Homo sapiens: one gene and its partners. The protein of the gene in region 4 interacts with the protein of the main gene of each other region in a pairwise test. Each region holds a gene or a part of one and is shown on either strand. Other genes may lie near its edges.

Region 1 (7,023 bases), on a different chromosome or scaffold from region 4:
CAACTTCATAGTTGATTGTGACAGGATTTGGATATCTTCTGGTCAAGAGGAAGTCATCCCAGGTTCAGGTCTCTAAATTGGTTCATCTGTGATGAACATTTATTTCCTTTGTTATCACAGAAGGCGTAAAGACAGACATGAAGCAAGTGGGTTTGCAAGGAGACCAGATCCAGATTCTGATGAAGATGAAGATTATGAGCGAGAGAGGAGGAAAAGAAGTAAGGCATGAACAAATATGTCTTAAACATATATAAATACTGGAAGTGCAATTCCACTATGTGCTTTTTCTTTTCAGTTTGATAAATAGTTCATTTGACATTGATTTGGGTAATTTTCTTTCTGGAATCCCAGCAATACACATTTGCGTCACAGTTTTAATTTATATTGGGTTTTCATATGTATTTTCCTTTGAGCTTCACAACCACTTTCTAACATTTATTTATTGGATACTTTGGGACTAGCTTAAAATCTATTCCTGCACTGTCTTTACCTGCAGCACAGTCCAGTTGGCCGATGCTGAATCCACTCTGTTGTTTCTCTTAGGGGGGAAGCATAGTTAACATTGAGTGTGTCTGTTTTGGGCATTGTGACACATTTCATATCCGCTATCTTAGTTAATCCCCAAATGTTTGGTTTTTATTAACTTCTTTTGGAATTCAGTATATAGGTTGAATATTTGTAGGTCTCATTTTTCCAGCTTATAAATTGACTGCCCTTTTTAATAAGGAGGCATGCTTTCCATACTAAGGACATTTGTTTTTTTTTCTTAAACACCAGCAGGAACTAGATAGCTTTGAATGAGAAGACTTTGTTTGACCTTGTAGCTCATGATAGGGAGGTAGTGGCATGCCCATCATATGTATAGTTGTTGACAGATTGATGTTCTTATTTTAATGTGATTAGTAGCAGATTTCCAGTAATCACCCTGAATTTTTTTAACTGAACTTATTAGAGCTAATCTGCTTTTCAGAATCAGTAATCACTCTAGGTCCTAGTGACAAGGTTAGTAAAATGATCATGGAAGTATTTCAAAGGAAATAGAAGAAGGTTTTACTCAGGTTCATATTTCTCCTTGAGGATTTTATATCATCCAGTCCTGTTAATCAAAATGCATGGACACTGGCTTTAGAATAATTTCTAGAATAATTCTTTAGAAGAATGAATTTATTTATTTTTGAGATGGAATCACTCTGTTGCCCAGGCAGGAGTGCAGTGGTGCAATCTCGGCTCACCACAACCTGCAACCTCCTGGGTTCTAGCAATTCTCTTGCCTCGGCCTCCAGAGTAGCTGGGATTACAGGTGTGCGCTACCACGCCCATCTAATTTTTACATTTTTAGTAGAGACAGGGTTTCACCATGTTTGCCAGGCTGGTCTCAAACTCCTGACGTCAAGTGATCCACCCACCTCAGCCTCCCAAAGTCCTGGGATTACAGGTATGAGCCACTGCACCCGGCCTCTTTTTTTTTTTTTTTTTTTTTGGAGACACTCTTGCTCTGTTGCCCAGGCTGGAGTGCAGTGGCGCCATCTCGGCTCACTGCAACCTCCATCTCCTAGTTTCAAATGATTCTTCTGCCTCAGCCTCCCAAGTAGCTGGGATTACAGGTGTGTGCCACCATGCCCAGCTGATTTTTGCATTTTTAGTAGAGATGGGGTTTCACCATGTTGATCAGGCTGGTCTCAAACTCCTAGCCTCAAGTGATTTGCCTGCCTCAGCCTCTCAAAGTGCTGGGATTACAGGAGTGAACCACTGCGTCCAGCCAGAATAATTTCTTTTGTCAAACATTTTGTGCTGATGCAGCATGACTTTGTAATCAATTTTTAAAGTTTTACATTTTGTTTTTATTTCATTGTTGATTAAGCCATAATACATATGTATTATGTAATATTATGTATACGTAATCCATATATGTTAGGACTTATGCCTAATGCAAAATTCCTTGTGGTCTCCACTGATGTTCTCCTTCCAGTTGTCGGATACCAGATAAAAAGATCTGTCTTATCTCTTTTGGTTTGTTTGTGTTCACCATTCGTTGTCCAGGAAATACACCAGGAATAGTGACAACACGCAGCAGTTTCTTCAGGAGCCAGAAGGACCCACGCTTTCAAATATGTGTTTAGTTCCAGTGGTTTGCACACTGGAAAAGGAGCGTGCTGTGTGGTGGGGGAGATATGGCAACGCAGGGAGCTGGGTTTACTCCCTTTCTGTTGATTCACTCCCCTCTGATCATTCTCTTATTTGTAAACTGGATGCAGTAATATCTACTTCAGAGGTCTGTGAAGCCTGAACGAGGCCATGTGTATAAAGGGCCTAATGGGTATTGCTCTCGGTAAATAGTTACATTACTCTCTTTTTAAGTAACTGCTGGTTCTCTTGGTTGTATTGTTTTGCCTTAAAATTCATTTGCAGACTACATTGTGGGGCTCTTGAGTTCCTTTTATGAAGGAACAATTTTGCATATCTGAGGGAGTGTTGCCACTTTTCTACATTTTAAATCCTAGCATCAGAGGTTTGTTCATATGTAGCAGGAGGTCATCTGAAGTAGCAGGTCCTCCTTTTTTAGTTTTTTCTTAGGGGGGTGGGTGATAGATATATGGTGTGTCATAGTCGTTTGGGAGTCTGGCATCGGAAACCTCCTTTAATGCTTGGATTTGTGGTTTTGCAGGTATGGGCGGAGCTGCCATTGCCCCACCCACTTCTCTGGTAGAGAAAGACAAAGAGTGTAAGTAGATCTGTTTCTTCCTCTTTTATTCTGATACAGGTCTTTAACCCAACCATGGGGGATCTCAGCTTGGGCCCCCAGGTTTCCTGAGCGTAGAGGGAAACGGCCTGCAAGCCTGCCTGGCTCTGTCACCTGAGGCCGCACCTGGATCTCAGAATGCAGCGCCCTCCTGCAGAGAGAGACCTTTCTACGCCAGGCTCTGAGGCTTGGATTTCATGCAGTGGGATCCATCTCTTTTTTATGCAATTCACTTTGATTTCATTAACATTTCTTATTTGTTGTTAGATTCATTTGGAGTTAAAACAGCAGATCGTTACAGTTTTTTAACTCAGAGGTTTAGAGGCTGTTATATTCATGATCCTCCACAAGGTGGCAATGCCTTCCTTGATTAGATTTTTTCTTCCCGTTCCATTTCACTGCAGGTGGGTTTGCGTGTCATTGCGTTGCCAAAACACCCTCACCCACTGTTCCTTCTCGCAGTGATCTGCTCTAGAATTTGGGGGTTGGGACTGGACTTCTGAATATCATCTAGGTCATTTTCCCATTCTCTGGATTGGACCATACTTAAACTATCCCAAGCAGATATTCTCATTTATAGTACTTTTTAAAACTTGTTGAATTCTTTATCTTTTAAAGAAGATAATTTCTAAGATATTATGAAATACCTATTATGTGAAAACAACAGACAAACAATAAACCCCAATTGAAACTAGTCTCTGGGAGTGGGGCTCAGGCATCTGGATGGTCTTAAAGCGTCCTACTGACTTTCATCTAACTAGGGTTGAAGCCACCGCTCCAGTGCGTAGCCCCTAACCTCGGACACCTTTGTGGGCCATGAGCTGATGAGATAGTGAGGTCGGGGTCTAGACAGGTGCACCCAAGTTACTGCAGGAGTCAAAAGATGGCCAGATTGTATCTCCTTAGAACATACAGAACATCTTTCCGGCAAGAATATTCATTCAAGAAGATTTTAAAGGGTGAATAACATTTCAGTAAGATATAAAAAAGACGTTTGAGGAGATAGAAATAGCAAAAGGAAAGTTAGAATCAGGAAAGTAGCGTCCTCCCTCTGTGGTTTTAAAAAAAGTCGTATAAAGGCTGTAAAATTGATTTGGTGTTTTTCTCTCCTTGTGGTAAACCAAAAAGTAGGTTAAATTTGTTCAAGATAAATAATTGATACAAGTGAGGTTTCAGAGTGTTTTCTATAGTATTTTGGTGAGCCTACTTTATTTTTCTCCAATAGTACCCCGAGATTTTCCTTATGAAGAGGACTCAAGACCTCGATCACAGTCTTCCAAAGCAGCCATTCCTCCCCCAGTGTACGAGGAACAAGACAGACCGAGATCTCCAACCGGACCTAGCAACTCCTTCCTCGCTAACATGGGGTAATGATTTAATGTTCTTATCTAAGGACTTGAGAGACAGTGTGAAGCGTTGATAGCCCTTTCAATAGATGCAGCTTGTTTGAAACTGAGGACATTCAGGACCCTTGGTGTGTGCAGGTCACACGGTACCTGCCTCAATCGTGTGGAGCGTGTTCCAGTGTAATGATGGGGCTTGTTCAAAACAGCAACCTCCCAGTAGAAGTTTTGACTCATTTTGATGTTGAACATTATTTTCCTAGACAGGCACAGAACCTGATTAATGTTTACATTTGCCTTCATAACGTTTGCAAATAAAATAGCTCATATGAATCAGAGCTGACTTACTGTCTCCAAAGGGCAGGTGATACCTTTTTTTTCCTGATAAAGTGGGCCATTTGCTTTCAGGTCATGGTTCTAAACCTTTGGTCTAAAAAACTCGGGGTCATTCTAACTACAAGTTGACATGTTTGCCAGCATATAAAATTTGACTGTAAGGCTGACGCTCAGGTGGGGCTTGGGGATTTTTTTAAACTGTGCTGGGCTTGGCAAACATTTTGGTTAAGAGGATATTCTGTGTTGTTGACTTTGATCCTGTGAGACGGCTGTCCCATGAAGCAGTATCACATGAAGGCTTTGTTCTGTGCTGTGTTGCATCTGCTGGCTGCTGCCTGTAGCAGAAATGCAGCCGGTGAGACAGTGAGTGGGGTTGAAACTCACTAGTCTCCTTTCAAGTGCTCAGTGACCACATGCAAGTGGTGACGATGTTGGATGGTGCAGACATAGGACATGGCCGTGGCTGCAGGAAGCTTTGTGTACTGGAGGGTTGGACAGACATGAAGCTGGTTTTGTTTTGTTTTGTTTTGTTTTCCCTGTTTATGATAAAAACTGACTTTTTAGCGAATTTGCTTTTAACCAGGAATTACATCTTTAACTTGTGCTTAGGAAAGATGCAAGATGGTACCATTCAGCAGTTTCTGGTCTTTTTAGCCCTAGAATAGCTTGTTCAAATGAAAATGTTAAGGGAATTAAATACAAGAAGTAATGTAGGTGCAGTTCCAGTTGAAGCGGGATTTTGTGGCTTAAGCCCTAAGCAGCAGTGGTCATGGGGTTGGGGTGCCCTTCAGACCCATGCTGCGCCTCAGAGCGCAGTGTGAGAGCCATTTGGTTGTTACAGAAAGCAGTGACTGAGAGTTGTGGGGTCCAGTTTCAGCTCTACCATTAACAGCTGTACAAATAATTTATTTGTTTTCTGAGATGGAGTCTCGCTCTGTCGCCCAGGCTGGAGTGCAGTGGTGCGATCTCGCCTCACTGCAACCTCTGCCTCCCAGGTTCAAGCAGTTCTCCTGCCTCAGCCTGCCAAGTAGCTGGGACTACAGGTGCACACCATCATGCCCAGCTAATTTTTACATTTTTAGTAGAGATGAGGTTTCACCATGTTGGCCAGGCTGGTCTTGAACTCCTGACCTCAGGTGATCCACCCGCCTCGGCTTCCCAAAGTGCTGGGATTATAAGTGTGATCAACTGCACCCAGCCTGTACAAATAATTTCTAATATGGCGTCTTGCATTACTTCTAAGTCCACCCCTTAAGCTAGTCAGCTAATCTTGGCCTCCGTTTATTTCTCATTTGTTAAATAGGTGATCTCTAAGGGTTCTTTCATTTGTATAGTCTGTCATTGGAAACTCTCCTGTGCTATTTAGGAAAATGGGATCATCTTCATTGTACGAAACTTCATACTTACTTTTTGATAGCCACTTTTTAATAAACTGTGGTCATAAGCTATGTGGCAGTGCAGGTCCGGAGCACACAAAAGGTCTTGTGTTTCCTAGCAGGGCACTGAGGAGACTCCACCAGAGAAACTGACATTTCCCCTCCAAGACAACAGGATGTTCTGGATTTTATTCATAGCTTTTTCTATTTCTTTCATGCTGCACATCCCCACAGCTTCCATCTAATAGCCCACTCCTAGTTAATGAGTGACTTTGTTGAAGCCCCTGTGGAGCATGCACTCTCTCCAGAAGGAGGTTGTTGTGATGGAAAAATGCAACCTATCTCCAGTTGACGATGTCAAGGCTAAGAGTCCTTTCCCTTCTTCTCCTGCCAGGGGCACGGTGGCGCACAAGATCATGCAGAAGTACGGCTTCCGGGAGGGCCAGGGTCTGGGGAAGCATGAGCAGGGCCTGAGCACTGCCTTGTCAGTGGAGAAGACCAGCAAGCGTGGCGGCAAGATCATCGTGGGCGACGCCACAGAGAAAGGTGTGTCCCCAGGGAAGCGTGTGACTAGAGGGAAAGGACTGGCCCCATCCATATCAGACATGGCCAGTCTTGATCCTCATGTGTCAGCAGGGGGACAATGAGGCGTGTGGCCAGAGGGAGAGGGCTGGCCCTGCCATCACTAGAACACAGGCCGTCCTGTTCATATGATGCACTGCCACTTCCGTTTTGTGAAACCAGGAATCCTGAGGCTCATCTTTATTTTTTCAGAACAGACGTAGAGAGATGAAGGCTTGTGGAGGAAAAGATGGTGAGAGACTTGGGCAGAAAATGAGTAGTCCTCAGGAAGAAATCTTGGTTATGTGTTTAGAGCATGAAGGACAGAGCCATATAGTGTGGCAGTGAATATACCTGCTATCTCCATCTCAGAGGTCGTCTCTACTTTTCCCTTTTGCCCTTTCAGTATAGATGTGATTTCTGATTCTCTTACAGATTGTTTGCTTTGCGAGATCTGATGTTATGTTGCAGTCTCTTGGTAAATGATGCCTAGTTGGTGTTTTATTTTCATTTAATTTTTACAGTCTGTTCTGTGTTGAGGGAATTCAGGAAAGAGACAAACATATGTTAGCATTTTAATCAGGGAATTAAGTTTGAGTCAGCCTAGCTGAACTTCCTTTGCTAAAGAAAGAAGAAAACTTTTCTGGCAGCCCCGTTCATGCACAGC
Region 2 (7,091 bases), on a different chromosome or scaffold from region 4:
ACTACAGGCGCCCACCACCACGCCCGGCTAATTTTTTGTATTTTTAGTTGAGATGGGGTTTCACCATGTTAGCCAGGATGGTCTCGATCTCCTGACCTCGTGATCCGCCCGCCTCAGCCTCCCAAAGTGCTGGGATTACAGGCGTGAGCCACTGCACCCAGCCAGTGACTTCATTTTTACTTTTGCCTTTACTTACTCATTTCACAAGTATTTGAGGATACACTTCAGAGCACTGAGGTTACAAAGACAACAGTGTCTGTCCTCAAGGTCTGTCTAGGTAAGACACACAGCCAAATAAACAATTCTAATACAGTTATACAGTTTTAGTTCTGACACCTCCAATGAGCTGTAGACTTGTATTTGTCATTTCCAGTCAGAATGCAAAACACAGATCCAAAACAGAACTTTCAATTTCTCCTCCAAATCTATTCTTCCTTCAGCTGGTCGTGTAAGTGATGCCACTATCACATCCACTTAAGACAAAAACCCAGAGGAGTACTGCCTTAATCAGTAATCAGTGTTACCCTTCTTCTCACTGTGCATGTTAATTTTGCCACATCTTTTTTTTTTTTTTTTTTTTTGGTACAGTGTCTCACTCTGTCACCTAGGCTGGAGTGCAGTGGTGTGATACTGGGTCAATGCAGCCTCAACCCTCTGGGCTGAAGTGATCCTCTCACCTCAGCCTCCTAAGTAGCTGGGACTACAGGCATGCGCCACTACACCTGGCTAATTTTTGCAATTTTTGTAGAGACGAAGTTTCACCATGTTGCCCAGTTCTCATGCCTCCTTGAACTCCTGAACTCAAGTGATCTGCCTACCTTGGCTTCCCAAAATGCAGGGATCCCAGGTGTGAGGCACCGTGTCCTGCCCTCTCCACATCTTTCTTAAGCACACTGACTAAATTGGTCTAAGTAGAGCCTAACATCAACTGAAGGGAGAGGGTAATTTCCAGGTAGTTGAATGCTATGATTTTTGTTTTTTTGTTTTTGAGACAGACTCTTGCTCTGTTGAACAGGCTGGAGGGCAGTGGTGCGATTTCAGCTCACTGCAACCTCCACCTCCAGGGTTCAAGCAATTCTTGCGCCTCCCAAGAAGCTGGGATTACAGGCATGCGCCACCACACCCAGCTAATTGTTGCATTTTTAGCAGAGATGGGTTTTCGCCATGTTGCCCAGGCTGATCTTGAACTACTGGCCTCAAATGATCCATCTGCCTTGGCCTCCCAAACTGCTGGGATTACAGGAATGAGCCACTGTGCCTGGCCCCTGAATGCTATGTTTTTAACGACTAGATCTCAGTATTATGTGGGACTAATTTTTCTACAGTATTACAACACTGATTACTGATATTCATTGTTGACAATCATGACATCCAGATCTGGATATTTGCCTTAGCCAGTCTCAAAATTTGAGTTTCAATGACAAAGACACAGATATGTCCTAAATGACTGACCCCACTTCCACTATGTGAAGTTGAGAGTGGTTGTAAAGCTGTACAGCTATAGGTGAAACACTAATGTTAATCAACTATCTGTTGAACAACTACCATGTAAAAGGACAATTTATGCCTTAGAGAGCAATTTAAAATTTTTTTAGAGATGGGGGTCTCGATACGTTGCCTAGACTGGTCTCAAACTTGGGCTCAATCCATCCTCCTGCCTCAGTCTCTCGAGTAGCTGGGATTACAGGTACACACCACTTCACCAGGCAAAGGGCAATTTTAATATTTCTACCATCCATTCTCCACACAGCTGCCACAGTGATTTTTTTTTTTTTTTTTTTTTTGAGATGCAGTTTCACTCTGTTGCCCAGGCTTGAGTGTAGTGGCACAATCTTGGCTCACTGCAACCTCCACCTCCCAGGTTCAAGTGATTCTCCTACCTCAGCCTCCCGAGTAGCTGGGATTACAGGCGCCCGTCACAATGCCCAGCTAATTTTTTTTGTATTTTTAGTAGAGATGAGGTTTCACCATGTTGACCAGGCTGGTCTCGAACTTCTAACCTCAAGTGATCCGCCTGCCTCGGCCTCCCAAAGTGATGGGATTACAGGTGTGAGCCACCGCTCCCAGCCCACAGTGATCCTTTTACAGCAAAGCTACTCCTTTGCTCTCAACCCTTCGTCATATTCTGTCACTTCCCAATAAAATCCAAACCTTACCAGATGATACATGATCTGCCTTGATTTCCATCTAATTTCTCTCATTTGCTGTGCTCCAGCCACACTGGTCTTGCCCTTTCTCCATGCCAAACAAATCCCCATTTCAGGGTCACTGCACTTGCTGCTTCTCTTCTAGGATAGTTTCCCTCTAGAAATCCATGTTGCTCCTTCTCTCATTAAATGATCAGATATTTATGTGCCTCCTTAGCTAAGAGGCCTTCCTTATCTACCCTAACTAAGAGAATCCCCATATCACTCTTATCCTTTTATCCTGATTTATTTTTCCATAAAACTTGCCACATTACTGGGCATTATCTATCATTTAGTAATGTGTATATTGCTTATTGACAGTCTTCCCTACTATAATATGAGCTCCATGAGGCAGAGACTTTGTTTTGTTCACTGCTGAATTCCCAGCACCTACAACAAGCCTACTCACTAAACATTTGTTGAATTAATCTTCAGGATACATCAAATGTAAAATATCCTATCATATATTTATTGATGTGATGCATAGGAAAATGTCTGGAAGGGTACATACCAAAATGTTAATTATTTATTTAACCTGGTGGGAGGTGGTTTTTCTTTCCTTTTCTTTTCTTTTTGAGACAGAGTTTCGCTCTCGTTGCCCAGGCTGGAGTGGAATGGCAAGATCTTGGCTCATTGTAACCTCTGCCCCCAGGGTTCAAGCGATTCTACTGCCTCAGCCTCCGGAGTAGCTGGGATTACAGGTGCCTGCCACCACACCCGCGTAATTTTTTGTATTTTTAGTAGAGACGGGATTTCACCATGTTGGTCAGGCTGGTCTAGAACTCCAGACCCTGTGATCCGCCCGCCTCGGCCTGCCAAAGTGCTGGAATTACAGGCGTGAGCCACCGCGCCCGGCAGGGCTTTTTTTTTTTTTTTTTTTTGGAATGAACTTGTATTATGCATATACCAAAAAAGAATGAAAGGGTTCACACAGGCATAAAGTGTAAGTGAATTCTAAAAAAAGGTTGGGCAAATTTATCAAAGGCAGACTTCTAAATAGATGTAACAGTTATATAGTTCAGATAAACCATGGTTTGAATTCCCTTCCCCAGTACTTCCTAGCAGTGTGATCCCAAGTTATTTATGTCAGTGCCTAGATTTCTTCACCTGGAAAATAGGGATAACAACAGGTGCCTACCTCACAAGTTTTAAATGAGACCGTATGTGTAACCTGCTTTGTGCAATGTCTGGCATGCAATAAGTACTCGACAAATGGTAGCTATTAGAATCATCATTAACAGCAGTAATAAGAGATCTTGGGACATACCTAGCCCTCAAGATTGACATCAGAGTAGACCACCACATCCTCTCATCATTGCGCCTCAATTTGGGCCTCTGAAGCCCAAAGAGGGGATGGTTCTTTCCAAAGAAGACAATTTCGACGTTCCAGGAGCATCTGATTGAAACGCACCCTCTTCACCCCTTAAAATCAGTCTGGTTCATCCACGAGCAGCCCTTCGGGGCCCGGACTGGAGAGGCGCCACGGCTCGCCGTCCCTGGGCCCAGTTCCCTCAGCCTCAATTTCCCTTGCTGCAACAGGGGTGGAGATGGGAACGTTATCCCCAAACCCAGGCAGTCCCGGCTCGGCCCGCCTCACCGCACTCCGGAGGGGACCAAACAGCCCCACGCGCCAGGAAGCCTCAGGCAACGGGCCACGCGCCACACGGGCAAAGTGATTACTGGTCGGATCAAAAGTCAGGCAAGCGGCTCAGCCCCATCCTCCCAGTCCTCGGGCACGGGGACAGCAGCAGGCGCGCGGCGGGGACCGGGAAAAGGCCAAGAGGGCGGTGGCGGGCGCTCAGCACCCGGCGGGGGCCTCCACGGCCGAGGGGCGGAGGCGGCGGGCGCGCGGCACGCGGCGCGCTCGCCACTGCGCCGCCCGGGGGCGCGCACGCAAAGCCCGGAGGCGCGCGCGACCGGCGGCTCTTTGGCGCGGATTAGGGGGTCTCGGCGAGGTGAGGCGCCAGGCAGCGCTGGGCGGGCGGGCGGGCGGGTGGCGGAGCGCGAGCCCCTCTAGCGGGACTAGGGAGAAGCGGGGGCCACGAGGTGCGGCGGGGGAGGAGTCGCGGGCTGCGGGCCCCGGCGGCGGGCTTGACGCGGCAGGCTGGCGGGCCGGCGGGCGGGCAGCGGCGGGCCTCGCCGCTCTGTGGGGGAGGGCGGTGTGGGGCCGGGCCTGACCCCGGGGGCCCGCCCCGCGTCTGGGCGGTGCCCCAGTGCCCCGGCCTCGCCATTTCCCGCTCAGCCCTGGAGCGCGTAGCTCTACCAAGAATGGCCACTGTGCCAGATGCCCCTGACCAGCGTTGCCCATTTGAATTTCCTAGCAGGCCCCCCAAAGTAGGTATTTCAGTACCCTGTTAGAGCTGAGGCGCAGGTAAAATGACTGGCCCAGGCCGGTCCCACCCCGTAAGGATTTGAACGTTGGCTCCACAACTCGGGAGCCTGCGCCTTTCCTCCTCCCAACGTGGACTCCTGCCCGGCGAAGTGCCTCACTTCCTTCTCCCGGTAACTGATTCGAATTTGGCGATTGTTAGTTTGGAGCTAGCGCCAGTGTTTCCACGGAAGTTGGTGTCAGAATGTGGTCTCTTGTGAAAGGGGGAGAAAGAAGATTCTGCAGACTGCAATATTGTGCTTTTTTGCCTTTTTTTTTTTTTCTCCTAGGCTGTACTGCAGTGCAGTGGCACGATCGCGGCTCACTGCAATCTCCGCCTCCCAGGCTCAAGCGATTCTCGTGCCTGAGGCGTGGGCCACCACGCCCAGCTAATATTTGTATTTTCAGCAGAGGTGGGGTTTCACCATGTTGGCCAGGCTGGTCTCGAACTCCTGACCTCAAGTGATCCTTCCGCCTCGGCCTCCCAAAGTGCTGGGATTACAGGCGTGAGCCACCACGCCCGGCCCTACTATTTTTTTATTTTTTGAGATGGCGTTTCTTTCGCCCAGGCTGGAGTGCAATGGCGCCATCTCAACACACTGCAACTTCTGCCTCCCAGGTTCAAGCGATTCTCCTGCCTCAGCCTCCCGAGTACCTGGGATTACAGGCGCCCGCCACCACACCTGGCTATTTTTTGTATTTTTAGTAGAGATGGGGTTTCGCTGTGTTGGCCAGGTTGATCTCGAACTCCTGACCTCAGGTTATCTGCCCACCTGGGACTCCCAAAGTGCTGAGATTACAGGCGTGAGCCACCGCACCCGGCCTCCTACTGTGCTTTTTCGAGTGTTGATCAGTCCCTATTGACTGTGCATCCTTTACTGGACGTCTGTTTTTGTTTTTGTTTTTTGAGAGGGAGTTTCACACTTGTTGCTCAGGCCAGAGTGCAACAGCGCGTTCTCAGCCCACCGCAACCTCCACCTCCCGGGTTCAAGCAGTTCTCTTGCCTCAGCCTCCCAAGTAGCTGGATTACAGGCATACGCCACCACGCCCAGCTAATTTTGTATTTTTAGTAGAGACAGGGTTTCTACATGTTGGTCAGGCTGATCTCGAACTGCCGACTTCAGGTGATCTGCCTGCCTCGGCCTGCTAAAGTGCTGGGATTACAGGCGTGAGCCACTGCGTCCAGCCTTGACATCTGTATTTGAAATGACACAGCTATCCCTTGTAAGACACTGCGCAAGTAACATACTCTTTCAGAGCTTGCTTGCTTTTGAAAAAGCAGCTTGCCCCAAAAGTGTGGGAGTGAGGATTCAAAGAATCCCCACACCTTGGTACCCACGGGTACCTAGCAAATTGAAAAAGTTCAGTAAATTTGGCAGTTATTTGATTGCTGCGTTCGTAATACACCCTTGCTAGACTCATTTTTCTTCAGAGCTCAACTTTTCCTGAGAGGACAGCAAAGGGAGACCTACCCCACCCCAAAAAGGGAAAGTTCTTTGATGGCAGCGTTAGCAGAAATGTTGCCCACACTTAGTGATGAATTATTCTCCAAGCTAAAAATTACCAGGGTGAAAAAAATCACTTCAGAAAAGCTAAAGATAAATTAACCTTTTGTAGAATTAACATTTATTAGTCCACTACTATGTGTTTATTGTATTCCTCCTGTATGCTTGGCATTTTAAAAGCATACAGATAGGTATCCGATATAGTCTCTGCTTTCACTTATTTATTATTTATTTTTGAGACAGGATCTTGCACTGTCGCCCAGGCTGGAGTGCAGTGGCACAATCTCGGCTCACTGCAACCTCCACCTGCCTGGTTCAAGCAACTCTCATGCCTCAGCCTCCCGAGTAGCTGGGATTATAGGCGCCCGCCACCACGCCAAGCAAATTTTTTTGTATTTTTGGTAGAGACGGGGTTCTCACTATGTTGCCCAGGCTGGTCTGAAACTCCTGACCTCTGGAGATTCATCTGCCTCAGTCTCCCAAAGTGCTGGAGTTACAGACATGAGCTACCACACCCAGCCTGCTTTCACTTAATTTAGAAGTGGGGGAAAATAGACATTCAGAAGTAATACTCACAAAGTAGAATGTGAAAAATGCCAGATAAAAAGCTGTGAGTGGGCCGGGTGCGGTGGCTCATGCCTGTAATCCCAGCACTTGGGGAGGCTGAGGTGGGCAGATCGCCTGAGGTCAGGAGTTCGAGACCAGCCTGGCCAACATGGTGAAACCCCGTCTCTACTAAAAATACAAAAATTAGCCAGGCCTGGTGGCCCGCGCCTGTAATCCCAGCTAATTGGGAGGCTGAGGCAGGAGACTCGCTTGAACCCGGGAGGCGGAAGTTGCAGTGAGCTGAGATCGTGCCATTGCATTCCAGCCTAGGCAACGAGAGCGAGACTTAGTCTCAAAAAAAAACAAAAACAAAAACAAAAAGCTGTGAGTGTACAGAAGAAGGATTATTTTTTGACTTAGTGTAAAATATTATTTTATTTCTGCTTCAAAGAAGATACTTTGGGCCAGGCATGGTGGCTCACACTT
Region 3 (7,687 bases), on a different chromosome or scaffold from region 4:
TACACAAGAACTTGCAGCTGACAGAACTGACACACAGATTTCCCCCAAGAGGAAGAACCCTTTTCATTTGCAGAGATGAATTGAAATGTCATGTCTGAGTGCAATTCCTGCTCCCCACTCCCACCCCACAAAATCCTATAAGTGATAATAAATCAATAAAATCCCCATGATTTACTAAAAGTCATCCCTGCAAACCTTTCTAACTAGCAGCTGCAGTGGATAACCAAGAAGGGAAGCAGCTGGCCATCACATAGCATTCCTGTGAGTGTGAGAATGAAGGGACAGCAGCATGGGAGCGAGAATCCTGAATGAGTGAGAGGTATAGATAATCTACCTCACTTCATACCTGCCCCTTCCCTACATAAGACATCTCTGTCCTGATACATGGAAAATACTAGAGGAGATGGTAGAAGTGGTTTTAGTCTGCAATTGGAAATGCCTGAAGCTTATTAAATTCCAAGGTAGGGGTGAGATGAGGAGCACCAGAGAGAAAGAGCAGGTTAGACAGAGATGCTCAACTCACTCTGTCAATTCCAGTTTAATGCTATTTAACAACAAAATTATCTTCTTAATCATAACCACCCTCATGCCTAACCCCTATTTTCCAAAGATAAGAGATCCCTGTCTAAATTTCTGGGTTGGTGTCTACTGCCGCCCCTGGGGTGGTACTGTGATGTTTGTGAGTGAGATTGCAACTGGGATGGGAGAAAAGAAGTGTGGGATACGGAAGATCGGGGGCCACGATGCATCAATTACAGTGGGTCTCTTTTCGTCCCCAGGTATGGCCCACTACCACAAGTCCCCTTTCCCTACCTGTCTTGTGCAACTGTCAAAAACAGAATCTCTGCCCAAAGAGAAGGGAGCACAGGGAGTTGCTGCTGGACTGCCATCATCTCTGACCCCAACTTGTCCACCTCCTGACCGACCTTTCTATGAAACTGCACAAAAATTAAATCTCAGGAATGCCATAAAATTACATCATCCCCATTCCTCTATCAAAGCCAATCCAACAGCTCTGTCCTGACATGCTTTCTCCCTGGGCCAAGGAAGCAACAAAAAATATCAGTTGAGCATGTGAAAATGCGTTGACGGTGTGTGCGGTGTAAAGTTTCTATATGTCTTCACCTTCTGTCTCCTCACGGTGGGAGCCGCCCTCTCTTTCCCCAAGTCACACACACACCCCTCCCCTACCCCTAAGTCCAGGTGCTTCCATCTGCTGGGCTTCCAACCACTCATTTCCCATAGACACTCTCATTACTGTAGGCCACATACAGAAAATCATCTTCCTCATGACTGTCCTCATATAGTTGGCCCATGGTAGCACTAGTGGGAGGGATAGTGTTGTTGACAAAGAAGAATAAGGCGTCCTCAGGTCTCAGGTGGATTCTCTTCCGGATTAAAAGGTAGAACTGGCCATCGGTAAGGTCGGAGGGCACTAGGTACTTCCTCCTGTCCAGATCAGGCACCCTTGCTTTTGGAGCCTTCTCTACAATCAAGGGGACCCTGTCCGGATATTTCTTCCGGATCTTTTCTCCTTCCTTTTTCCGATACTCAAAGGGATGGACCTCCTTGTACTGGAACTTCATGGTGAATCACAGGGCTTCCGTGATCCCCGCGCAGGGCCTGCCTCCTTCGCCGCTGACCGCTGGCCACGTCCCGCTCCCTCCGCCGACGTGTGCTTAGAATAGCTGCAGAAATGTCCGCTTCCGGGTCAACAGCACTGGTCCAAGTGTGCGGGAGGGCAGAAGGTGGGGTGGGAGGGGGACCTCGGGTGCGCCTGCCTGGAGGTAGAGGAGAGCCAGGTGGAGAAATACCGGCGGCTTTTCCAAACAGCTGGGAGCACAAAAACCAAATATTTGGTTTTTTAAACCAATAAATTTTGGGGTAATTTGTTACACAGCAATAGATAATGATAGACTCTCTCTTTAAAAAAATCAGTTCTGGCAGGGTGCGATGGCTCACGCCTGTAGTTCCAGCACTATGGGAGGCCAAGGCGGGTGGATCACCTGAGGTCAGGAGTTCGAGACCAGCCTGGCCAACATGGTGACACCCCCGTCTCTACTAAAGATACAAAAAATTAGCCGGGCGTGGTGGTGCACGCCTGTAATCCTAGCTACTTGGGAGGCTGAGGCAGGAGAATCGCTTGAAGCCAGGAGGCAGAGGTTGCAGTGAGCTGTGATGGTGCCATTGCACTCCAGCCTGGGCGACAGGGCAAGACTCTGTCTCAAAATAAATAAATAAATAAATAAATAAATAAATTCAGTTATAGCAAGTGCTGAAGTCTTTCTGTCTTTTCATGCTCCTTGAAGTCCTTTCACAGTTTTTCCTGGCTCTTCTACGCCTCCTCTCGGCCACGCCCTTTAGCACCCAACCCCTCAACAGGTAATGATCCTCTCTTCACGTGGCCATTGCGGGTACATGATTGGTTTCCTGTACTGACTGCTCTTCTCGTGAGACCAAGCTTCCTTTCCCCTACTCCCCACACACCTGATCATTGTGAACAAACCGCCGAGAGAACAAGGTAAGGCAGAAGGAACAGAAGCTGCAGAGAGCGGCAGGGGATAGCCACCAGCCAGATTCTGTGACTCTTCATTCATCTCCCCACTCCAGTCCCAGATTGAAGAATAATCTTCATGATCTCCTTAATGGCAAAATGCTAGAAAGACTTACCGAGGGGTCTGAAGATGCCTTCGGTTCTCCAGGTCCTGAACTCTGTTCCAGTTACAGGAGGACTGGCAATCCCTAGGTTTCCTGGGTGTTACTTTGTTACTGACCTCCTCTGAGATTTCCATTTTCCTCAATTTCGTCTAACTAAATCTAACTACGTCTAACTACCTCTGCTAACCAGACATTTGTTCATAGTCGACAGAGTTTCCGAAAATGCAATGTAGTTACCTTGCAGATGACTATAATTGTGTAGCAAAATAACTAAGATGCCACTGGCTATATGGAAAAAAAAATTACTTAGGATTTTGATACCTTTTATGGTTTATTTCCCCTTTTGGCCTGTGAACTTCATGAAGGTAATGGTTATGTATGATTCCCGAGTAATCACAGTTCCCAGAACGATCTTTTTTTTTTTTCTTTCTTTTTTTCTTTTTTGAGACGGAGTCTTGCTCTGTCGCTCAGGATGGAGTCCAGTGGCGCGATCTCGGCTCACTGCAAGCTCCACCTCCCGGGTTCACATCATTCTCCTGCCTCAGCCTCCCGAGTAGCTGGGACTACAGGCGCCCGCCACCACGCCCGGCTAATTTTTTCTATATTTAGTAGAGACGGGGTTTCACCATGTTAGCCAGGATGGTCTCGATCTCCTGACCTCGTGATCCTCCCGCCTCGGCCTCCCAAAGTGCTGGGATTACAGGCGTGAGCCACCACGCCCTGCCCCCAGAACGATCTTGAGAACAGAATGTTCCCAATAAATATCCACTGGAAAATGCACCTTATTTTTGTTGAAGGAATGGTGGAATTAGCATCAAAGGGATCTTCAACATTAACTCGGGCCGGGCACGGTGGCTCACGCCTGTAATCCCAGCACTTTAGGAAGCCGAGGCGGGCGGATCACGAGGTCAGGAGATGGAGATCATCCTGGCTAACATGGTGAAACCCCGTCTCTACTAAAAATACAAAAAATTAGCCGGGTGTGGTGGCGGGCGCCTGTAGTCCCAGCTACTCGGGAGGCTAAGGCAGGAGAATGGTGTGAACCTGGGAGGCAGAACTCGCAGTGAGCCGAGATCGTGCCACTGCACTCTAGCCTGGGCGACAGAGCGAGACTCCGTCTAAAAAAAAAAAAAAAAAAAAACTCTATGGCTGGTAATTCTAAGCGTTTTATAATACATCACAAAATGTTCTTTTATTTTTCTAAATTGCACTGAATCAACAAACGGAGTAGACAGGCACATTTTCTTCACTTTAAGGAAAGACTTTGTTGTTTTTTAGCTAGGGGCCGACCCAAAGTGATCACTGGCTCTCACATGAGACCCAGGAGCCTCCCCAGTTTGAAGCCCGATATCACATTTCCCAGAATACTTGATGCCCTCGCCCGCCTCCTCTGGCTATCAACCAGACGGAAAGGGGATGTGCCTGGGAGTTTGATGCCAAGGGAAGGATGCGGAATGTCTGTTTTCTACTAAGGGCTTCTGCTGGGCCTTTCCAATGTCCAGTTTGAGTTGGTCTGGGACCTGGCCTCCGCAAACACCCTGCAGGCTCCGGCCGCCGGGGATGAGGTGGAAGACTGGGCAGAAGAGAGGCCGCAAAGGCCCGAGGGCTGAGCTGCTCTGCGCTGGGGAGGGGCGAAGTGCCAGAGCGCGGGAGACCTCATGGTGGGCACCAGGCTGCTCCGCGGTAGGTGGGTGAGGCCAGGAGATTCACATCTGCAGATGCCACAGTGAGGATACAGCATTTAGATCCCTCGGCTCCAAACAGGCGGTTCCGGGGGACCGGTAGCTGGGGAATTGGGTTTAGCACTTTCCAACGCTTGGAACTGGACATCCACGGCTCCGAGTCCTTTGAGGTCTTGCTCGGGACTACGTTTCCCAGAAGGCTAGGCGATAATTGACAGCTCTATCAGCCTATGGACAGAGAAAAATTCTAGCCATGGAAACTGAAAAGCCAATAGCAAGAGGATGGGGGCGGTACTTTCCGGCCGCTGGCTGTCGAAGCCGGAGTCCCACCTGTGTCCCCACAGCCCTGTCACGAATCCCGGTCGGGTTCTGGGAGGCACAGCCTCGGGGTTGCGGGCCGGGTGCGGCTCGGCGGTGGAGGACTCACTTCCTGCTCCATCCCCGGCTGGGCCCTGGGGCGGTGAGTGATTCAAGGAGGGAGACCGCGGCGGCAGCGGCGCGCTGCTGAGGGGCGTGGAGGGGGCTTGCCCGCCACCCAGACGTTTTCTCAGCGGGGTTCCCGCGCTGGCCTTTGGGAGCCCCCGGGTCTTGCTGGGCTGTGGGAGAGGTAGCTGTGGTCTCTATACCGTCGGCGGGATAAGTCATTCTCTTAATCAGTTTTCTTGCTTCTCGATGGTGGTCCCAGGGTTTCAGCTGATCTGTGACCCTCTGACCGCCGCACCCCGGTTAGGGCGCGAGCACCGAGAAGAAGAACGGGGTTCGGCCCCACGCGTGCAGTCATGTTCCTATTAATAAACCCGGTGAACGCACTGGAGCTTCTCACAGTGGCACTTAGTCACAGCCCCTCAGCGCTGTGGGGCCTTTGAGGTCACCTGTGCATGGGGAAAGGGACGGGCTGGGAAACAGGGTTTCTATAACCGTGGCTAAGACGTCTCCCCTCCTCAGTGGCGCTGTCTCCAGCAAGTGGGCCCTGCAGCTGTGTTTTGTAATGAATGTAGAAATAAAAATTATACTCAAAACTCTTTTTTTTTTTTAGACGGAATTTCGCTCTTGTTGCCCAGGCTGGAATGCAATGGCGCTATCTCCTTTCACTGCAGTCTCCACCTCCCGGGTTCAGGCGATTCTCCTGCCTCAGCCTCCCAAGTAGTTGGGATTACAGGCGTGTGCCACCACACCCGGCTAATTTTGTATTCTTAGTAGAGACAGGGTTTCACCATGTTGGCCAGGCTGATCTCGAACTCCTGACCCCAGGTGATCCGCCCGTCTCGTCTTCCCAAAGTGCTGGGATTACAGTCATGAGCCACAGCACCTGGCCAATACTGAAAACTCTTATTACAATTTTTACTTTCTAATTACATTATTGTTGTTTGTTAAAGTTTTAAACCAGAGAGATGGTTTTTAGATCCTTAAAAACTCAATACTTTATAAATGACCAATAATAATGTCTGTAAATACAAAAATATTTCCCCCAAAAGTGTGTGTGTGTGTGTGTGTGTGTGTGTGTGTGTGTGTGTGTTCCAGTAGTAAATAGGTGATTTGTAGTGGGACAAAAGATGTGAAAGAGTAAAACTTCTTCACCACAGTCTGGTCCTTCCTCCCTTGAAATGCAATATTCTTTGTAGTGGGTGGTCATGCTGGCTGCATTTTTTTTTTTTTTAAGGGAGAGACAGGGGCTCACTCTGTTGCTAGGCTGGGGTGCAGTGGCGCCATCATAGCTCACTGCAGCCTGGAACTCCTGGGCTGAAGTGATCCTCCCACTTCAGCCTCCTGAGTAGCTGGGACCACAAGTGCATGCCACCATGCCTGGCTGATTTTTAAAAGTTCTTTGTAGAGAAAGAGGTCTCAATATGTTGCTGAGGCTGGTTTATTGGAAACTTTTTAAGGGAAAAAACATTATCTTAATTTCTATGTGACTCCTATGCCTGGCAACATATTAATTGTTGAATAAATGACTGATCCATCCAGTAATTCACTCTTGACTATCCTCCAAAAAGTAATGTTTTTCATGATATTGCTGTCGATTTATTAATATATTAATGATTGGTTTCAGCCCCTAAGAGTTGTGTTTTGTGCTTATTCCCACTTTCACTTATTTTTACAACCTATCCATGTCTTCTTTTTTTTAAAAAAAAAATGTCTTTTTCAGTCTTATTTCTGACTCCATTAAGATCTTGAAATAGAATGGTATCCAACACAGTTCCCTTTGGGGTTCTGTATAATCTGTCCCTTGAGGTTGACACCAAATCTGCAAGCCAAGAAGTTAGCTGCTCCCATAACTAATATGAGTATAGTTAAGGCCACAATTTCCTTGCTTGCTGAGGAAAATGAAGTTGGGGAGAATCAAAAGCTTTCCAGAAATCAAATTACACCTGCCAACTCTCTCCTTTGTTTACCTTGTTCATCGTGGACAATTTGTTCCTCAAAAAGTCAATGTGTCTAAAAGACTGGGTTCTGTCGATGTGTTTGGGAGGCCTAGGCCTCTCTTAGTAATGGGAAAGTTGGCCAGGAGAAGACGTATGTAAAAACAGACTTAGAAAAGCACCCCTCTGTGGTTGACAGAATTTACCTCAGGACCATTCTGGTCAGGTGTGGGGGGTTGTTTGTGTACACTGGTGGCCATTTTTTGGCTTTCAGACAATGGTGAGAATATCTAGGGAGCTACTGATGCACATTGAGGTCTCTTGCTTTAGGAACTGATGACGCTTGATAATGTGGCTGGGGACTTCAGGGAAGAGTGGGTTACCTGGACACTGCTTAGAGAATCCTCTCCAGGAATGCCACCCAGCACAGTTAGAAGAATGGGCTCTCAAAGGGTAAGAATGCTACTCTCCTTTATTTCATTTATTTATCTTGTTTTTTTTGAGACGGGGTCTCGCTCTGTCATCCAGGCTGGAGTGCAGTGGCGCGATCTCGATTCACTGCAATCTGTGCCTCCTGGGCTCAAGCGATTCTCCCACCTCAACCTCCTGAGTAGCTGCGATCACAGGCATGTGCCACCATGCCTAGCTAATTTTTTGTGTTTTTAGTAGAGACAGGATTTTGCTATGTTGGCAAGGCTGGTCTCACTATGCTGTCCAGGCTGGTCTCAAACTCCTGAGCTCAAGCAATCCACTGGCCTCCGCCTTCCAAAGTGCTAGGATTATGGGCGCCACCATGCCTGACCACTGCTCTCCTTTAATTTGAGACTTAGATATTTGGAGAGGGCCCAGGTCTGAGGAGTTTCTGGTATGTTGGCATCTTAGAGCTCCAGACCTCTGTAAGATTAATTGTTGCCTCCTTGGGAGAAAAACAATTACTTCCTTATGCATTTTATGGTTTGCAAATGTCTTTGCTATTTATTGTCCTTT
Region 4 (7,023 bases):
GTGAAACCCCGTCCCTACTAAAAATGCAAAAATTAGCCGGGTGTAGTGGAGGACACTGGTGGAGGATGCCTGTAATCCAGCTACTCGGGAGGCTGAGGCAGGAGAATCACTTGAACCAGGGAGGTGAGGTTGCAGTGAGCCAAGATTGCGCCATTGCACTCCAGCCTGGGTGACAGAGCGAGACTTTGTCTCAAAATAAATAAATAAATAGACTAAATTTTTCTCCAGTGAAACGGATTGCCCGTAAAATTTTAGAAAAAAAAAGGAAGATGAAGTGTCTACACTCTCCATCCTTGAACAATACTGCAAGTAAAGATCCTCCCGGGTGCTCTATTTAGCTCAAGCCATTACTAGACTGAACTGCAGGAGGAAGCAAGGCCTCACCTCCAGCCAAACATGCAACGGGAAATTCATAACAAGCAATCAGGTATGAATGCAGAAGGGGCTTCCCCAGGAAAAGAAACGAACACAGGAACATTGATAGAGCTAAATCTGCCCAGCCCTGTAGCCTCCAGTGGCCACTTTCCAGCCCCTCTTGCCTGAGGATCCTCAGCAACAAGGTGCCCAGGAACCTGAGGTGGCAGAAACACTACTCCACCCACCCCTCCATCCCTGATACCTGCTGACAGCATTGACCACAAGCCTCAGCTGCTCCTCGGCTGAGGCTGTCTGCTGCTGCCACCGACGCCTGGCCTCCTGAGCACGGCTCAGCTCCAACTGCAGGCCCTGGGGAGGATGCAGCAAAGGACAGGGTCCCTCCCTAAGTCCTGGCTGCAGCCCCGGAACAGGGGCTCCCTTGCCCTCCCCGAGTCTCTAGTAGGCTGACACCAACCTTGGCACCCATACGCTCCACCTCCACCTCTGCGGCTTTGTCCTGCAGGGATCGCTGCAGGATGGCCTGCTCCTGGCTCTGGGATGTCACTTTTTCCTGGAGTGAGGCCACCTGGGGGAGGAGAGAGAGCTAGGCAGGGCCCTCTAGAGCTAAAAGATGAGGGGGGCACTGGAAGCAAAGTGGCAGGTGCAGAGATCTCTGTAAGAATGCCATGCAGGGGCTGGGGGGAGGGGGGGCGGGCGACGGGGGTGGGTTGCAGCACGGTGGCTCACACCTGTAATCCCAGCACTTTGGGAGGCCGAGGCAGATGGATCACTTGAGGTCAGGGGTTCAAGATCAGCCTGACCAACATGGTGAAAGCCTGTCTCTACTAAAAATACAAAAATTAGCTGAGCGTGATGGCATGTGCCTGTAATCCCAGCTACTCGGGAGGCTGAGGCAGGAGAATCACTTGAACCTGGGAGGCGGAGGTTGCAGTGAGCTGAGATCAGGCCACTGCACTCCAGCCTGGTGACAAGAACAAGACTCCTTCTCAAAAAAAAAAAAAAAAAAAAAAGAAAAGAAAAAGAATGAATGCCACGCAGGGAGACAGAAGCTTAGGTTCTGAGGATGGAATCTGAGCCCAGTGTTCCATGTTCCACATTCCATGTGCCCACTCAAAGATGGGAATAGCCCTTGACCCACCCCACAAGACCCACCAACTGACCATGCCACTCTCCTCAGATGCTGTCACCTCCTCAGAGAGGCTGTCTCTGAGCATCCTACCTGAGGCTGACTCACCCCACAGTCTCTCCGTCACATTATCTTTTGAATTTTTCTTACTACTTTCTTTTTTTTTGAGAAAAGATCTCGCTTTGTCACCCAGGCTAGAGTGCAGTGATGGGATCACAGTTCACTGTGGCCTCGCCTCGACCTCCCAGCCTCAGGTGATCCTCCCACCTCATCCTCCAGAGTAGCTGGGACTACAGGAATGAGCCACTATGACCGGCTAATTTTTTGTATTTTTAGTAGAGACGGGATTTCACATGTTGCCCAGGCTGGTCTCGAACTCCTGACCTCCAGTGATCCACCTGCCTCGGTCTCCCAAACTGTTGGCATTACTTGACTGGGCACGGTGGCTCACACCTGTAATCCCATCACTTTGGGAGGCTGAGGCAGGTGAATCACCTGAGGTCAGGAGTTCAAGACCAAAGTGATCGCATTATAGGTGTGAGCCACTGCACCTGGCTTCAATCTTTCTATCGCACATATAATTACCCAACATTATCTGTTTACTTGCGTGTTCTGTGTCTCTGTTCTAGAATGCAAGCTCCACATTTTAGTTTTGTTCAGGGCTGTGTGCCCAGCATGTGGCAACCACTCAATAAACACTGGTTGAATGGATGCCACCTTCATGGAAGGAGCAAGGTGCTGGGAGGGAATACCGGGAGAAAAGAGAGTGCAGTGACCTGTCCCTTCAGCTGCTTAACAGAGTCACTGTGTTCCAGCTCCTGGGCCTTTAGCTGCACCATGAGGGCAAACACCTTCTCCCGCCAGCGGTTCAGCAGGGACTGGCACTTCCTGGTAAACTCAGGCTCCAGGGAATCTGAAGGTTGAACCTGAGGGAGAAGGAGTGGGAGAAAAGTGTGGGCTCCTGGGGGAGGAGAGGAAGGAGGTGGCATCTTTGTTTCTCCTCTGTCCTGCCTGGGCAACATGAGCTACAGCAAGAGGAGTTCACAGGAAGGAGATCTAAGCAGGTTCTGGGGCACATTGACCCCTCCTGCCCACAGGGAGGGAGGCAGGGGACAGTAGATGCAGGATGCGGCTGAGGGTGAGGGGTCTGGGGGTTGGGCTGTACCTTCCTGGTCAGCTCCTCCTCCTGCAGGGCGAGGATGTGTGTGAGGCTCTGCACCCGCACCTGCAGCAGCTCCGCGGTGGCATGCAGGCTGTCCCGGTCCTCCTGCAAGTGCTGCGGGCAGAGGAAAGCAGCCCCTCTGTAGGGCCTCCATGCCGCCTTAGGTACCACCTTCTCTCCCGGAGGCTGTGCTCTACACGCTCCTCCAAGGGCCACGCTTGCCTCCCAACCTGATCCCTAAGTCTGCACACAGATACATTCCTGCACCCTCACCTGCATGGTTTCCAGAAGCTTCTGTCGCTCCAGTTCCCATGTCTGGCTGTGGACCTCAGAAGGCACTTGTTCCCCAACATATTTTCTTAGATTCTCAACCAGGGTCACCTGAGCCTCCAAGTCTTCCTGGGTCTTGCTAGGGTTGGGGTGGGAATGGGACAGCCATCAGTGGGGCGCCCTGCAGATCCACCACATCACTAATTGCTGGGCTCCCGTCGGCGTCCGCCCACCTACCTCAGCTGCTTCCGAAGCAGCTCGGCCTCCCTCTGAGCCTCGGCCAGCTCCTTGGCTTCCCCTGCTCTTCTGGTTTCCAGACTACTCAGAGACTTCTCCAAGCCCTCAGCCTTGCTGGTCAAACTGGAAAGAGCCTCCTCGTGAGCCTGTGTCAAAGAGGACAGCTGCGGAAAGAAGAGGGGGCTCAGCAGAGGCTCGACCCCACATGGAGGCCTTCCTTGTTCCCTTCACTCCCACTTTCTGTGACCTTAGAGAATGACCCAACCAATCAGCCAACTGTGCACAGCAAATGGAGAGCTGGCAACTCACTCTCCGCAGCTGCCCCACAACCCATCAGGAGTTCTTGTCCGATCTCCCCCAAAACATATCTTCACCTCTCTGTCTCCGTCTCCACTGCCACCAACCCTCATCTTTTGCCTGGGCAACAGCGACCATCTCCTAACTAGTCTTTACAAACCCTCAGTGGCTTCTCACAGCATTCACAACAAAACCCAGGTGTCTCTCCACACCTGCAGGCCAGGGGACCCGGCCTCTGCCTACCTCCTGAGCTCACCCTGGAGGCTCTCCCACTGCTCCCCGCTCCGGCCACGGGGAGTCTGCTGAGAACCAGACAGCGGCCCCTCCTTGCTCCACAGACCCCAGGCGATAGCCCCTCCTCAGGGTGGCTTCACTGGGCCCTCTAATACCGTCCCTCCCCACCCTACTCTGCCCCATCAGCTGTTCACGTCCTCCTGAGCACTTAGCACTGACCATATCTTGCTTATGTGTATGTGTTACTATCTGTCGGACCACACTGGAAGGAAAGCTCCAGGAAAGGAGGAATTTTGTGTCTTTTGCTCATGGCACCTCAAAGGGTTGCAGGGGTGTCAGAGCCACCAAGAGTCATGGGATGGACTGGAAAGGAGGGCAAAGTGCCCACCCTGCTTCCTGGTCTGCCTCCTCTAGCCCTGTCTCCATACAACAATAAAATTAATTTGGGGGACATAAATGACAAAATTTTTTAGACATAAAATACAAATCTAATCATGTTATTTCCCTGCTTAAAACCTTTCAACAGGCCGGGCGCAGTGGCTCATTCCTGTAATTCCAGCACTTTGGGAGGCCGAGGTGGGTGGATCACAAGGTCAGGAGATCGAGATCATCCTGGCTAACATGGTGAAACCCCGTCTCTATTAAAATACAAAAAATTAGCTGGGCGTGGTGGCGGGCGCCTGTAGTCCCAGCTACTCGGAAGAATGACTTGAACCCGGGAGGCGGAGCTGGCAGTGAGCCAAGATCGCGCCACTGCACTCCAGCCTGGGCGACAGAGCGAGACTCCATCTCAAAAAAAAAAAAAAAACAACCTTTCAACGGTTGCTTATTACTTGAAAAAACAATTTTTTTTTGTTTGTTTTTTTGGAGATGGAGTTTCACTTTGTTGCCTAGACTGGAGTGCAATGGCACGATCTCAGCTCACTGCAAACGCTGCCTCCCAGGTTCAAGCGATTCTCCTGCCTCACCCTCCTGAGTAGCTGAGATTACAGGCATGAGCCACCACGCCCAGCTAATTTTTGTATTTTTAGTAGAGATGAGGTTTTACCATGTTGGCCAGGCTGGTCTCGAACTCCTGACCTCAAGTGATCCACCCGCCTCAGCTTCCCAAAGTGCTAGGATTACACATGTGAGCAACCATGCCCAGCCCTAATTTCTTCCATAAAATAGAGATGGGGGTCTCGCTTTGTTGCCCAGGCTGGTCTCAAACTCCTGGGCTCAAATGATCCTTCCACCTTGGCCTCCCAAAGTGCTAGGATTACAGGTATGAGCCACTGTGCCCAGCCTGCTCATTGCTCTTATGGGAAAGTAGCAAGTTCTGAAGTGGCCAAAGCCTTGTGCCCTGGGCCCTGGGCTCTGCAGCACACTCAGTGCCCCTCATCTCTGTGCCCCAGCCTTCTGGCCTCCTGTCCCCGCCTTCACCTGTTGTCCCACCAAGTGTCTTCCAGCTACCACTGGACTTCACACGCCTCTTCACTGGCCAACTCCTATTCAGCACAAACGGTAGCTTGTTGTTTTTTTAGTCTCGCTCTGCTGCCCAGGCTGGAGTGTGATGTCAGCTCACTGTAACCTCTGTCTCCCAGGTTCAAGCAATTCTCCTGCCTCAGCCTCCCAAGAAGCTGGGGGATTACAGGCGCCCACGACTATACCCGGCTAATTTTTGTATTTTTTTGTAGAGTTCTTCATGTTGGCCAGGTTGGTCTTTAACTCCTGGCCTCAAGTGATCCGCCCACCTCGGCCTCCCAAAGTGCTGGGATTACAGGCATGAGCCACTGTGCCTGGCCTAGCTTCTTGTTTCTAAGTTTCTTTCATAAATCTCCTTTGTCCATTTTCTGATTGGATTGCTGGTCTTTCCCTTACCAATTTCTAGGCACACATTTTATATTAGGGATATTACCCTTTTCTTGTGATCTGAGCTATAAATATAGCTTTTTTTTTTCTTTTTGGCTATTCCTAATGTTCATGTTATAAAGTCAATGGATCAATTTTTTCCTTTATGGCTTCTAGATTTTGGATTTTGACTCACAGGTAGAAAGGCCTTGCCCACTACAAGGTTATAAAGGAATTCTCCCTTGTTTTCTCCCAGTTCCTTTTTTATTTTATTTTTTGAGACAGAGTCTTGCTCTGTCGCCCAGGCTGGAGTGCAATGGCACAGTCTCGGCTCACTGCAACCTCCACTGCCCAGGTTCAAGTGATTCTCCTGCCTCGGCCTCCCAAGTAGCTGGGATTACAGGTGCGCACCACCACGCCTGGTGAATTTTTGTATTTTTAGTAGAGACAGGGTTTCGCCATGTTGGCCAGGCTGGTCTTGAACTCCTGACCTTGTGATCTGCCTGCTTCGGCCTCCCAAAATGCTGGGATTACAGGCGTGAGCCACTGCGCCCAGGGCTATGGTTTCTTTCCTTGACATGTCAACTGGTTACAGTGGCCTTCCCTGAACCCCAGACTAAGTTAGTGCTTTCTAGTCCTTCTCCTTCAAGGCATTCCTCCTGATTGCAATTAATTATGATTAAATTAAATGTGGATGTGTATATCCCCCACGAGGCTGTCAGTTCCATCCACGAAGGCAGGACTCAGGCTAATTTGGTCACTGAGTCTTAGAGATGGCAAAGAGTAAGTACTGAGTTTGAGGACTGAATAATCTCTCTCTCCCAGTCCACCATAGCCCCCTTATACCCACCTTCCTCACTGCCCTCCACAATACCCCTGATGAATTGGTACCTGGAGTAAAGTAGGGAGGCAAACTATTTCCTACTAGAAAGGGAAGCAGGGCTTCAAGTGGTGGGAGGCCACCTGAGTCTTGGGGGAAAAGTGCAACCTGAATTAAGATAAAAGTACCCAAATTCTCCATCTTTCTAGGCCATGTGTGTTTATTTTCACCAAAGGTCTCATCACTCTACTACTCACTACTCATGGAGGGTCTTTTCTGCAATACCTGTTCTTTGCTTGGAAGCTACTGCCCAGCTCTCCGTTATGAATTTGAATCCTTTCTACCCCTGCATTCACCTGCTCTTGGTGCAGCCTCTGAACCTCTTCCAGCTCCCGCTGGCTCCCCTCTTCCAAGTTCTTCCGGACAACCTCAGCCCCAGCCAAAGCAGCACGCAGGCCCTCAGCCTCAGCTCGGCCGGCCTTCTCCGCCCGTGCCAGAGCCTCTAGCTCCATGGCCTGGGCCTCTAGCCTCATCTTCTGCTGCAGCGAGGTCTCCCGCAGGAGCCGGACCTCCTCCTCCAGCCGCCGCAGCTCTTGCAGCTGCCGAACGATCACCTCAGCCTGCTGGCTCAGGGCCTGTGACCCCTCCAGCCCCCAGGACCTTCAAAGA

The links.
Region 1: the proteins of CCHCR1 (region 4) and RBM17 interact in binary tests that used the Homo sapiens proteins (3 or more experiments, as listed by UniProt).
Region 2: the proteins of CCHCR1 (region 4) and TADA2A interact in binary tests that used the Homo sapiens proteins (3 or more experiments, as listed by UniProt).
Region 3: the proteins of CCHCR1 (region 4) and ZNF774 interact in binary tests that used the Homo sapiens proteins (3 or more experiments, as listed by UniProt).

Annotation. Positions count from the first base shown.
Region 1 is NC_000010.11:6,106,021-6,113,043, forward strand, and holds part of RBM17 (splicing factor 45), read left to right. Parts: intron 1-120; coding exon 121-218; intron 219-2,665; coding exon 2,666-2,722; intron 2,723-3,965; coding exon 3,966-4,107; intron 4,108-6,189; coding exon 6,190-6,341; intron 6,342-7,023. UniProt on the Homo sapiens protein: Splice factor that binds to the single-stranded 3'AG at the exon/intron border and promotes its utilization in the second catalytic step. Involved in the regulation of alternative splicing and the utilization of cryptic splice sites.
Region 2 is NC_000017.11:37,402,809-37,409,899, forward strand, and holds the start of TADA2A (transcriptional adapter 2-alpha), read left to right. Parts: upstream 1-4,077; 5' UTR 4,078-4,141; intron 4,142-4,415; exon of another isoform or gene 4,416-4,688; intron 4,689-7,091. Other genes in the region: ACACA (acetyl-CoA carboxylase 1), read right to left, coding at 3,454-3,491. UniProt on the Homo sapiens protein: Component of the ATAC complex, a complex with histone acetyltransferase activity on histones H3 and H4. Required for the function of some acidic activation domains, which activate transcription from a distant site. Binds double-stranded DNA.
Region 3 is NC_000015.10:90,347,612-90,355,298, forward strand, and holds the start of ZNF774 (zinc finger protein 774), read left to right. Parts: upstream 1-4,672; 5' UTR 4,673-4,800; intron 4,801-7,030; 5' UTR 7,031-7,049; coding exon 7,050-7,153; intron 7,154-7,687.
Region 4 is NC_000006.12:31,147,786-31,154,808, forward strand, and holds part of CCHCR1 (coiled-coil alpha-helical rod protein 1), read right to left. Parts: intron 7,015-7,023; coding exon 6,711-7,014; intron 3,338-6,710; coding exon 3,174-3,337; intron 3,076-3,173; coding exon 2,940-3,075; intron 2,781-2,939; coding exon 2,670-2,780; intron 2,431-2,669; coding exon 2,281-2,430; intron 944-2,280; coding exon 833-943; intron 727-832; coding exon 620-726; intron 1-619. UniProt on the Homo sapiens protein: May be a regulator of keratinocyte proliferation or differentiation.